3 linked regions of the Homo sapiens genome follow. The protein of the gene in region 1 interacts with the protein of each later gene in a pairwise test. Each region holds a gene or a part of one and is shown on either strand. Other genes may lie near its edges.

Region 1 (3,751 bases):
GAATTGTCATCTTTGGAACAGTGATTGCAACAGCACTTATGGGATTGACAGAGAAACTGATTTTTTCCCTGTAAGTTGCATAGTCTTCTTAATTGTAATACTTAAGCCACAAAATGTTAAATACTTGTTCACTGGGAAAATGTAATAAAAATATAACAAAATTTTTTAGATATTAAAATTAAAAAATATTTTAAAGAATTTGTTATATCATATAGGTAATATGATATTACTAAAAGTTTAGAAGGACCAAAAAGTCTGACAAATTGTATTACTCTTATGAAACAACTATTGAAGTTATACATTCCCTTTCAATCTTGTTGATATGCATGTTTTTATATTAATTGTAATTATAGTGTACATACATTTTTGTTTCATCCTTTTTAAAAATTTTAAGTGATAACTGTTACTGGTGGAGGGTGTCCAGGTTCTTGGCGTTTTGAACAAAGAAGTGGACAAAACACACAAACAAAGCAAGTAAAGAATGAAGCAACAAAAGCAGAGAGTTACTGAAAATGAAAGTACACTCCACAGGGCGGGAGTGGCCTGAGCAGCCACTCAACGGCCCGATAGGGAATCTTCTTGGGTCCAAATAGCCCCTAGAGGTTTCCCATTGGCCAGTTGGTGTTCACTGCATGTAAATGAAGTGGTGGCCTGCAGTCAGTTTGATTGGTTGTAGAAAGCAACCAATCAGAGATACTTTCAATTTTCCATCCGCCATGCAGAAAAGCGGGGTTTGCAAAGGGAGTAGCCTCGGGTCCTTTTGCTACTTAGATGTGGAAAGTTGGGGTTTTCCTTTTGGTTTAGTTCTAGGAAGTCCGTGTGAATTGACCTGAGGTTGCCTGCCTCCAGACCCTACCTGCCTTAAAACAAGTGTTACAGATGCTATATTATTTTCATATTTATTATTTTTAAATCAATTTCATTATATATTCCCGAGTGAATTGTAGCATAATTTATATTTCTCCTTAATAGCAAGCTTTGAGAGTTTACATTGAAACTGTACTAGTGTGCATTTTGAGCAGATAAATTCAAGACTGTTTTGCATGTTGCTGTATCATCCTGTTTGTAATTGGATACATCTCTTATTTCATAGGAGAGATCCTGCATACAGTACATTCCCGCCAGAAGGTGTTTTCGTAAATACGCTTGGCCTTCTGATCCTGGTGTTCGGGGCCCTCATTTTTTGGATAGTCACCAGACCGCAATGGAAACGTCCTAAGGAGCCAAATTCTACCATTCTTCATCCAAATGGAGGCACTGAACAGGGAGCAAGAGGTTCCATGCCAGCCTACTCTGGCAACAACATGGACAAATCAGATTCAGAGTTAAACAGTGAAGTAGCAGCAAGGAAAAGAAACTTAGCTCTGGATGAGGCTGGGCAGAGATCTACCATGTAAAATGTTGTAGAGATAGAGCCATATAACGTCACGTTTCAAAACTAGCTCTACAGTTTTGCTTCTCCTATTAGCCATATGATAATTGGGCTATGTAGTATCAATATTTACTTTAATCACAAAGGATGGTTTCTTGAAATAATTTGTATTGATTGAGGCCTATGAACTGACCTGAATTGGAAAGGATGTGATTAATATAAATAATAGCAGATATAAATTGTGGTTATGTTACCTTTATCTTGTTGAGGACCACAACATTAGCACGGTGCCTTGTGCAGAATAGATACTCAATATGTGAATATGTGTCTACTAGTAGTTAATTGGATAAACTGGCAGCATCCCTGGCCTGTTGTCATGCAGTCATTTCCTGTTAATTCTGGGAGACAATGATTTCACAACTAGCGGGAAGCAGTCCTAAAAGTTTAAAATCCGATAAGGAATATCTGGGACAGGGTTTAGATCATGACTCTACACAGATACCATGATGAGAGTATATTAAAGAAATTTAGGAAAGCACCTGGTTCCTTTCTCCCCATGCCTGCCTTCTGCTCCCTCCCCAGCTGGTTTGGGCTCAAATTGTCCCTGGAGACTAGGGTTTATGTTAGGGTATTGATAGATTAGAGCAGGTGGTTGAAGAGATCTTCTCTGGTCAGACTTGGAAGAATTTCCAAAACTGAAGTTAGCCCCAAGACTTCCCTAGGGTTGATGTACTTTATGATCCAGATGCTAAACTTCTTAGAATGAAAATATGCTTCAACACTTAAGTAGCATACACTGCCCTACAAACCTCAGAGAGCACTTTTCCCCAAGTTCTTGTTTTTATTTTTGAAAGTACTCACACAGCACTTACTATGCTCCAAACACTCCTCTAAGCACTTTACACATATTAGCTCATTCAGTCCCCAGACAGACGGGATGAAGTAGGTATTGTTACTGTTCCCATTTTACAGGTGAGAGATTTGAAGCCTGGGGAGGCTAGTAACTCACCCCAAGGTCACACGGCTCATACATGGTGGGACTGAGACTCAGATGCAGGCAGTCTGGCACCTCAGTCTGGATTCTAACCATTTCACTAAGCTATTTTTGTCTTGTACTACTTTGACCCACCCCTGAATAAACCTCAATTGCTGGAGTGGGGTGTAGTTATTAAAGGGATGCTTTTTACCTTTTGCTGTTTGCTGTGGCAGATTCCCCAGATAACCAAGGAAAAGGGGCCACCCATACCTGGAAATAGGCCATAGGGCCCCTACTACTGCCAACAAGCCATGGCCTACCTTGACACTTGTTTGATCTTAAAATTGTGTCTTGGTAACAAAAGATTTGGACAGGCATATCTGTAGCTTTCAAGTTAATTAATTGCAATATTTTTTTCTTCAGGATTTTAGCTGCTGAACAACTTTCAGTTTGGAGCTAAAAGAGACCTGTCTCATGGTCTGCCCTTCCCTGGGGCAATAGCTAGGGTCTTTCCTGATTTTTATGGAATTTTAGGGGATATTTTGAGCTTTGGGTTCTCAGTAGTGAATTGAGACTTGGAGGTGACTTTTCATGTTTGGAGTATCATCTCTGTCTGGGATCTGGGCTGACAAATTAAAACCTAGAGTAGTGCTTATGCTGAAATGATACTTTTCATTTTTTGGTTGATTTTTTTGCCTTCCCTTCAATTTTAAACTGAAGCATTTTAATATGGGTAGAAACTCTACACCAAATACACTAAACATTTTGGTGCTTAGTGGATTTCTTTTTAGGTAACTGGTACTTACTTCCAAAGACTGAATACAAGCCACACTCCATCATATCCCTTAAACTTCATGAAAAACCATTCAAGATCCCCTTGCTGCAACACTGTTCTCTTCTTCTCTACTAAATTCTATTTCCAAAATTGGTAATAGAGCCAGAAGGATCCCCAGTACCCAGCCCTCTGCCTGGCACAAAGTGGTAGCACAATTAAATTCAGTATGGGTGGAGCATGGTACAGTCTTGGTGCCATAGAAGGAGTAGTTGCATAGTCACACATCATTTGATAAGTTGGATGTTCCATTACATAGAGGAACACAAAATTCCAGGGTTTTTGGAGGAAGGGATTAGATAGTGACTAAGCCGCCAGAATTGAGGTGGCCATTCCTTTTTGTATAGGCTAAGAAACAGGTTATCAGTGAAAAGTTAATTATGGCTTTGGCACTAGAATAGCACTGTTGCAAAGTATTTAAGCACCCCCCATCTCAGCCCTTTATTTTATCTTTCATGTGGGCTAATGTGAGGATAATCTTACAGATATTATAGGAATTTCTTTTCTATCTTTATGAAAACAACGTATATAAAATATATCTAGAAAACCTTTGTTTGAGACTCTTATTTAA
Region 2 (3,751 bases), on another chromosome or scaffold:
ACACACTAAAAGATGTTTGGATTTTAGATCGTTATAATGTAGTATTCAGGCCTTTTTTAGGCCAAGGATGATCGCTTGGGATTATTTTGTTTTTTGCCAGCCTGGCGTGATGCTGTGCACACCGTCAGTTCTTAATAAACATTGACTTGCCAGATGAAACTTCTTCCTGGTCATTCTACCATATGGAGCTATAATACATTTTTCTGAGAGATAATGGCCCATCAGCCATACTGTTTTAGATGGGAGGGTAAGAAAGATTTGTATGTGAATGGCATTTCATAAGTGCTAGTCAAATTACTGAAGAGAAGTCTCTGAGTCTTTCAAACGCCAGCATCTTCTGACACACTGGGCATTAGCTGCATGCAGAAAACTAGTTAATTCAGGCACTAGGAGTAAAGCACATGATGAAATTAAAAGACCTGACGCCTATCTGTGAGGAGCTCCCCTGTTAGCAGGGGCAGTTGAAAACACGTATGTGCAAAATGATTCCAAATCTGAGCAGCAAAGAAACAGTGGCATAACCTTTTTTTTTTTTTTGGACAATTGAAACTGGAATTTAGGTGGTAAAAACAGCACTAGTGGAGCAGGGCACAATGACACACGCCTGTGATCCCAGCACTTTGGGAGACCAAGGCAGTGGATTGTTCAGGAGTTCACCATCCTGGGTGACATGGTGAGACATTGTCTCTACAAAAAAATATAAAAATTAGCCGGGCGTGGTGGCGTGAGCCTGTGGTCCCAACTACTCTCTGGAGCCTGAGGTGAGAAGATCACTTAAGCCTGGTAGGTCAAGGCTGCTCTCTATCCTGGGTGACAGAGTGAGAGCCTGTCTCAAAAAAAAAAAAAACACGAAACAAACCCCAGCACTACTTGGCAGGAGAGCTTGTGATTGGCAGAAAAGAGAAGGGAACGCTCTCACAGCTGGCGAGGACTTGGCTCCTGCCTATAGTCCACTTTCAGAGCAAAAGTAGAGCCACCAGGATGGGCGTTGGTGTTTCCCTCTACAGTGTGGGTAACAGGGCAGGCCCTGCGCTCAGTACCCACATTCCCAGCTCCACTGGACTTCCAGCTCTGTGATCACTGGACACACTTCCAGCTGTGTGATCTTGGACAAGTTATTCTACCTCTCTGGGCATTTTTTCATCTATAAAATGGGGAGGCCTGTGGACAGATTCCTTGAGCACAGGAGTTGGAGACCAGCCTGAGCAACATGGTGAAACCCTGTCTCTACCAAAAATACAAAAAAGAGAAAGAAAGAAAGAAAAAAGCTGGGCATGGTAGCATGCACCTATGGTCCCAGCTACTCAGAAGGCTGAGGTGGGAGAATTGTTTGAGTCCAGGAGGCTAAGGTTGCAGTGAGCTGAGATCGCGCCACTGCACTCCACCCTGGGTGACAGAGGGAAACCCTGTCTCAAAAAAAAAGAAAATGCAGAAGCACAGCCTCCTCTATCCTTAGTTAACTCTCAGTCTACTTGGAGAGGTAAACTATAGATAAAATAGCTAAAGGACACGAGCAAACATTTAACACTGCATTAAGGGGAAGCCATGGAAAGGAACATTTGGAACCAGCTAGGTTAGTGAGTAGTCAGAGAAAGCCTTTAGGAGACACCCAATGAGGTCTTGAAGGAATAGCTTTTCCTAAGAGGAGATCATGATACAGAGACAAGTATCGTTGGAATGAACGATACTTGTGGAGTGGAACTCATTTGGAGAGTGACAGATCTGAGGAAGTTCCTCTTCTGTGTGGACAGAGGCCACCCCAGGCCTTTGCTTTGCTTTTTCTTATCCATTAGGGTCCGCTGATTCTTTCACCAGCCCCTCCGGCTGTTCTGGCTTGGCCTTGGCCAAAAGACAGAGCAGTGAGACCCCAGGAACTGACTGATAAGCAAAGTTAATCAAGTGCCTGTGTTTCTTTCACAGGACTCTGACACCACCATACCAATGGACGAATCACTGCAGTTTAACTCCTCCCTCCAGAAAGTTCACAACGGCATGGATGACCTCATTTTAGATGGGCACAATATTTTAGATGGACTGAGGACCCAGAGACTGACCTTGAAGGTGGGGTCCCTGCTGGGGGACAGAGAGAAGGCCTCTTGTTTTAGCCTCATCCAACAGTTTAGTAACTGTGTTTATATTTTGATTACGTGTCCTCAAATTGTGATATTTTGATGACAAGACAGAGCCCTTGAGTTTGGGATCCTTTCTGTTGGAGTTGAGTTATTGTGAGCCTGAAAGTACCCAGTTCCTTTGCCAGTGCTTGAAACAAACCATGAAGTGGCCTCTCTTAGGATCCAGGTCTTTTCCCATTTACTGAACTTATCATGAAAGTGAGTGCTACTACGAGGGGTCCAATCACAGGCTGAGAAATTGTGTTACAGAATCTACTCTTGGAAGAATGAAGACGTGGCTGTCCTTTGGTACCTCGCTTTAAGGTGGCTTTCCCTTAGGACCCCTACTGTGGACTGCCTTATAACTAAAACCTTTTGTATTTTAGTAACTGAATCCCCACTGTGCAGTGTTAGGGCTGCCTGGTTGTTTGCAGTAGATTAGAGCTTTAGAAGCTTCTAGAGCTTCTAAAGCCCGTGCTGGTGATCCCAGCGACTCTTCACTCCCTAGCCTTAGGTATTCCTAGAAGCCCTGACCAGTTGGCACTGCTGAGACTCCAGCCCCTGGGAGTGGTTTACAGAAACATTACACAGACTCTGATGTCAGTCATGATGTTTCAGCCTCTGCCCTTTTCCTGTATCAACCCTGATGGATAATAGGGCGTGGGTTCTGTCTGTTATCAGGGTGTGGTCCCCTGTGAATGAAGCACTCCCAGCCACTGAGCTGTGAGAAACAGTCACTCGGAAGTGTGAGCTTTATCTTAGTTTTTGTTGGATCATGTTGAGTCTGTCAGCTCCACAGGACTTCAGTACGTTTCTGAACAGTCCCTGCCATCTCTACGGGGGAGAGGGTCAGGCAAGCTGCAAGTGACACTCACCTCCTGCTGACAGTTGCAGTGTCTCAGATGGCCTGGAAGGGTGGTCTCCAGCAGCCTGCTGGGCGCTCCCCTTTCATGAGAGCCACCTGCAGTGACCTGAACTGATACATGTTGATTAGTCTGCCCTTTCTTTAGAAAACTGCTACTCTCCTTTTCATATCTCAGAAAAACAGTAGAGGCCTTTTAGGACCAAACTCCATGTCACACTGATGAAGAGCCAGTGGGGGTTAGAGCGTCCTGTTAAGGCACATGCTAACTTCCCACTCAAGTCTGGCAGCGCTGGGGCATCAGCACACCTCTTGCCACCCACACTGATACCAGAGGGGAAGGCTGTGAGGTGGCTGGGGGTTGAGACTTGAGGTTTCTAACTTTCCTCTGCACACCTGTGGCTACCTGGTGTTTGTCTCTTGATTCCCTCCACCTGCCTCACACCCTGCCTCCGTCGGGATTTTCCACCTACACCATTCAAAAGGAACATAGGAGAGGGCATGAAGGGGCTAGGCTGAAGCACTCTGATGACTGGGGCCAATTTGTGGCTGAAAATGAATACATTTTTTGAAATTTATGGTCATTTTCAAGTGATTTAGAAGGTTGATCCTTAGCCTCATACAGTGATGAAATAATCTGTGTGTTCAGAGCCAAGCAGGACTTTAGCAAGAGTCTGATTGTATTGTCACTATCTCGGGGAAAAAAAAATACAAATACATTTCTCTGATCTCTGATGGCAATGAAGTTTGACTTGTAATTTCTCTGGCTGAGGCTTCT
Region 3 (3,751 bases), on another chromosome or scaffold:
GTCGAGAATTGCATCAAGCAGGGTTCAACACAAATATTCGCCCACCAGCTACTTAAAGCTCACCTCCTGGGCCAGGCACGGTGGCTCACGCCTGTAATCCCAGCACCTTGGGAAGCTGAGGCAGGTGGACCAGCTGAGGTCGGGAGTTCGAGACCAGCCTGGCCAACATGGGGAAACCCCATCTCTACTAAAAATACAAAAATTAGCTGGGCATGGTGATGAACTTCTGTAATCCCAGCTACTCAGGAGGCTGAGGCAGGAGAATTGATTGAACCTGGGAGGTGGAGCTTGCAGTGAACCAAGATCACGCCACTGCACTCCAGCCTGGGTGACAGAGTGAGACTCCATCTCAAAAAAAAAAAAAAAGAAAAGAAAAGCTCACCTTCTGTATTCTCAAACAGACCAGCTCCTGCCAACCCCCTATCACCACTTCTCCTACCGAGCACGCAAGAAACCAGGGAGGAAAAGGTCAGTTCCCCAAGAATAACAAAGCCCATGAAAACTACTTCAAGCTACTATCAGACAATGTTGTTTATTATTTCACACAAAAGTTAGACCAAGGCCACAGTGCCGTTAAACACCTCCCTCCCCACCCACGCATGGCTCAAAAACCACCCCAACCCTGCTATAAAAACAACAGAACACAACAAAAATACTGCATTTGAGGCTGAGCCAGGAACAGAGTGGCTCCAACAAAAATAAGACAAAAACACAAGACACAACATCTTTTCAGGTTTGTGTAAAAATTGCCATGGCCCACGGGGAAAGTGGTCATGGCCGTGTCAACAAGGATACTTGAAACTCAGGGCTTTTGGAGGTTTGAGACAGCTGCCACATTAGGGTGTCTTCCAGGCTCTGCTGCAGGAACTGAGGATGCTGAAGGGCAGGGCTGATCCCTTCGCCCCCTCTGAAGTTTAGGCCATTGCCTGGATGTGCTTTTCGTTGGGGAAGATGCCATAGGCTCCTTCCTCCTTTCCAGAGAGAGGGACACAGTGAGAGGGCTGGAGGCCCTGAAAGCCTTCAGTGCCCACGGTAAGGAAGCCAGCCAAGAGAATTCCCTCTCTAGAAAGAAGGCCTTCCACCGGACAAAGTTCATGGCCCTGGGAGCCAGCATGCCTGCATTCACATGGCATAAAGCCCTACAGCAACTGTCGCCACCAGAAAGCTGAGTGTAAGGACCCATCGGAGAAGCGGAGCCTGGGAGCGGGTGTTGAGTGGGGGCTTCCCTCTGGGAGTCTCCACGGGGGCAGAATCTGAAAGAGAAAATGGGGCAAGGTCATTAACAGGTGGGCGTGCATCAGGGTGTCTGATGTCATAGGAAAGCAAAGCAGAGCGGCCTCAGGGTCTGTGGTACAGTCACTGCCCAACGCCAGGATTCTGCAAGACCACAGACAGGTGTCCCTCTAGCCACTGCTTGAATACCTTCAAAGACGGGCAGCTCACTACTTCTTCAAGCTGTCTGTTCTTCCCTGTGCAGCCAGGCCACATTGTGAAAACATTCTTGGGCCCAGGCGTGGTTTTCAGACTTCTGCCTGCTCCCTGTCCTCTCCTTAAACTTTGCCAGCAATTAGGTCTGAGCTGTAAATCTTCCTCTCAAACTCACACGTTTGCTAAGCATGGTGATGATGGGGCAGGAGCTAGAAAGCAGGAGCTCTGAGGTCAAAATTCAAGTTCAGTCCCATCCCTGGTTATTAAAATGTGATAGGGCCGGGCGCAGTGGCTCACGCCTGTAATCCCAGCACTTTGGGAGGCCAAGGCAGGTGGATCACGAGGTCAGGAGTTCAAGACCAGCCTGGCCAATATGGTGAAACCCCGTCTCTACTAAAAATACAAAAAATTAGCCGGGTATGGTTGCGAGTGCCAGTAATCCCAGCTACTCGGGAGGCTGAGGCAGAGAATTGCTTGAACCCAGGAGGCAGAGGTTGCAGTGAGCCAAGATTGCGCCACTGTACTCCAGCCTGGGCAACAGAGTGAGACTCCATTTCAAAAAAAAAAAAAAAAAAGATTTAAAACATGATAGGCCAGAGCCAACCATGCAACCTGGGTAGATGTGCCACCTGCCTCCTCAGGCACAGAGTGGGTGCTCCCTAGGTCTTTAGAAGCAGGACAGAGTCCAGGGCAGGTCTCTGGAGCCAGACCAGCTGGGTTTCAATCCTAGCCCCGCCCTGGGCTATGAGAAGGGCTTCCCCAGAGAAAACAGGGCCTTAGGTCTGGTGGCCCAGGGCTGCGGTCACAGGAAGTACAAGCAAGCAAGCAAGCAAGCAGGTACACTGTGACATTTACATGTGTGTTGTTCATATTAAAGGCTCCTGCTCCTTCTGATGCATTAGGGGTGCAGTTCTCAAATGTTTTGGTTCCAAAACTCCTTTATACTCAAATGCAACCAAGGATCCAAAAGAGCTTTTGTTTGTGTGAGTATAGCTATCACTATTTACAAAATTAGATATTAAAACTGAGAAATTCTTTTTCTTTTCTTTTCTTTCTTTTTTTTTTTTTTTTGAGATGGAGTCTCGCTGTCGCCCAGGATGGAGTACAGTGGTGCAATCTCGGCTCACTGCAACCTCTGCCTCCCGGACTTAGGAGATTCTCCTGCCTCAGCCTCCCGAGTAGCTGGGATTACAGGTGTGCACCATCACACCCAGCTAATTTTTATATTTTAGTAGAGATGGGGTCTCACCACATTGGCCAGGTTGGTCTCAAACTCCTTACCTCAAGTGATCCCCGTGCCTCAGCCTCCCAAAGTGCTGGGATTACAGGCATGAGCCATCGTGCCCGGCCAAAACTGAGAAATTCTTAACATACAAGAACATACAGGCACACATTCCATGAGCCATCAAATCCATGAGAGAGCATCACATGTCACATAACCTTTGGAAAATGCCAACACACATTCATGAGAAAGTGAAACTCTAATTTTCTCATTTATTTTTGGCTTTTTTAAAAAAAGCCAAAAAAAAAAAAAATCTGGGTGTGGTGGCACGTGCCTATAGTCCCAGTTACTCAGGAGGCTGAGGTGGGAGAATCCCTTGAACCTGGGAGGTTGAAGCTGCAGTGAGCTGTGATTGTGCCACTACACTCCAGACTGGGTGAAAGAGCGAGACCCTGTCTCAAAAAAAAAAAAAAAAAAAAAAAAAGGCCGGGCGCGGTGGCTCACACCTGTAATTACAGCACTTTGGGAGGCCGAGGCGGGCGGATCACAAGGTCAGGAGATCGAGACCATCCTGGCTAACACAGTGAAACCCCGTCTCTACTAAAAATACAAAAAATTAGCCAGGCATGGTGGCGGGCACCTGTAGTCCCAGCTACTCGGGAGGCTGAGGCAGGAGAATGGCGTGAACCTGGGAGGCGGAGCTTGCAGTGAGCCGAGATCATGCCACTGCACTCCAGCCTGGGTGACAGCAAGACTGTCTCAAACGAAAAAAAAAAAACCAAAAAAATAGTAGTAGTGTTATAAAAATGCTTTGTCCTCACAGACCCCGTTGAGGGGATACTAGGATTACCACCTCCCACAGCCAGGGTACCACACTTTGAGAACTGCTTCATTAGGGTGACGTCTCCCTACCCCACCAAATAGCCAAGCCCTCCGGGGTTACAAACCCCTAGCAGAGGGGTCCGTGTGGTCTGGCACAAGTGAGAAAGCCACAAGCCAGGTAGGTTAGGGTGGCACAGGAGGGGAGGCCTAATATAACCTGCCAGGAGGTAGCTAAGCCTTACCTCTTTATTGCTACCCATCCCAAAGCCACACTCCCTC

What was found.
Region 2: the proteins of CYBRD1 (region 1) and GOSR2 interact in binary tests that used the Homo sapiens proteins (3 or more experiments, as listed by UniProt).
Region 3: the proteins of CYBRD1 (region 1) and HMOX1 interact in binary tests that used the Homo sapiens proteins (3 or more experiments, as listed by UniProt).

What each region holds. Positions count from the first base shown.
Region 1 is NC_000002.12:171,553,431-171,557,181, forward strand, and holds part of CYBRD1 (plasma membrane ascorbate-dependent reductase CYBRD1), read left to right. Parts: coding exon 1-70; intron 71-1,093; coding exon 1,094-1,397; 3' UTR 1,398-3,751. UniProt on the Homo sapiens protein: Plasma membrane reductase that uses cytoplasmic ascorbate as an electron donor to reduce extracellular Fe(3+) into Fe(2+).
Region 2 is NC_000017.11:46,933,109-46,936,859, forward strand, and holds part of GOSR2 (Golgi SNAP receptor complex member 2), read left to right. Parts: intron 1-1,920; coding exon 1,921-2,061; coding exon of another isoform or gene 2,062-2,172; exon of another isoform or gene 2,173-3,714; intron 3,715-3,751. UniProt on the Homo sapiens protein: Involved in transport of proteins from the cis/medial-Golgi to the trans-Golgi network.
Region 3 is NC_000022.11:35,390,970-35,394,720, reverse strand, and holds the end of HMOX1 (heme oxygenase 1), read right to left. Parts: intron 1,254-3,751; coding exon 1,123-1,253; 3' UTR 514-1,122; downstream 1-513.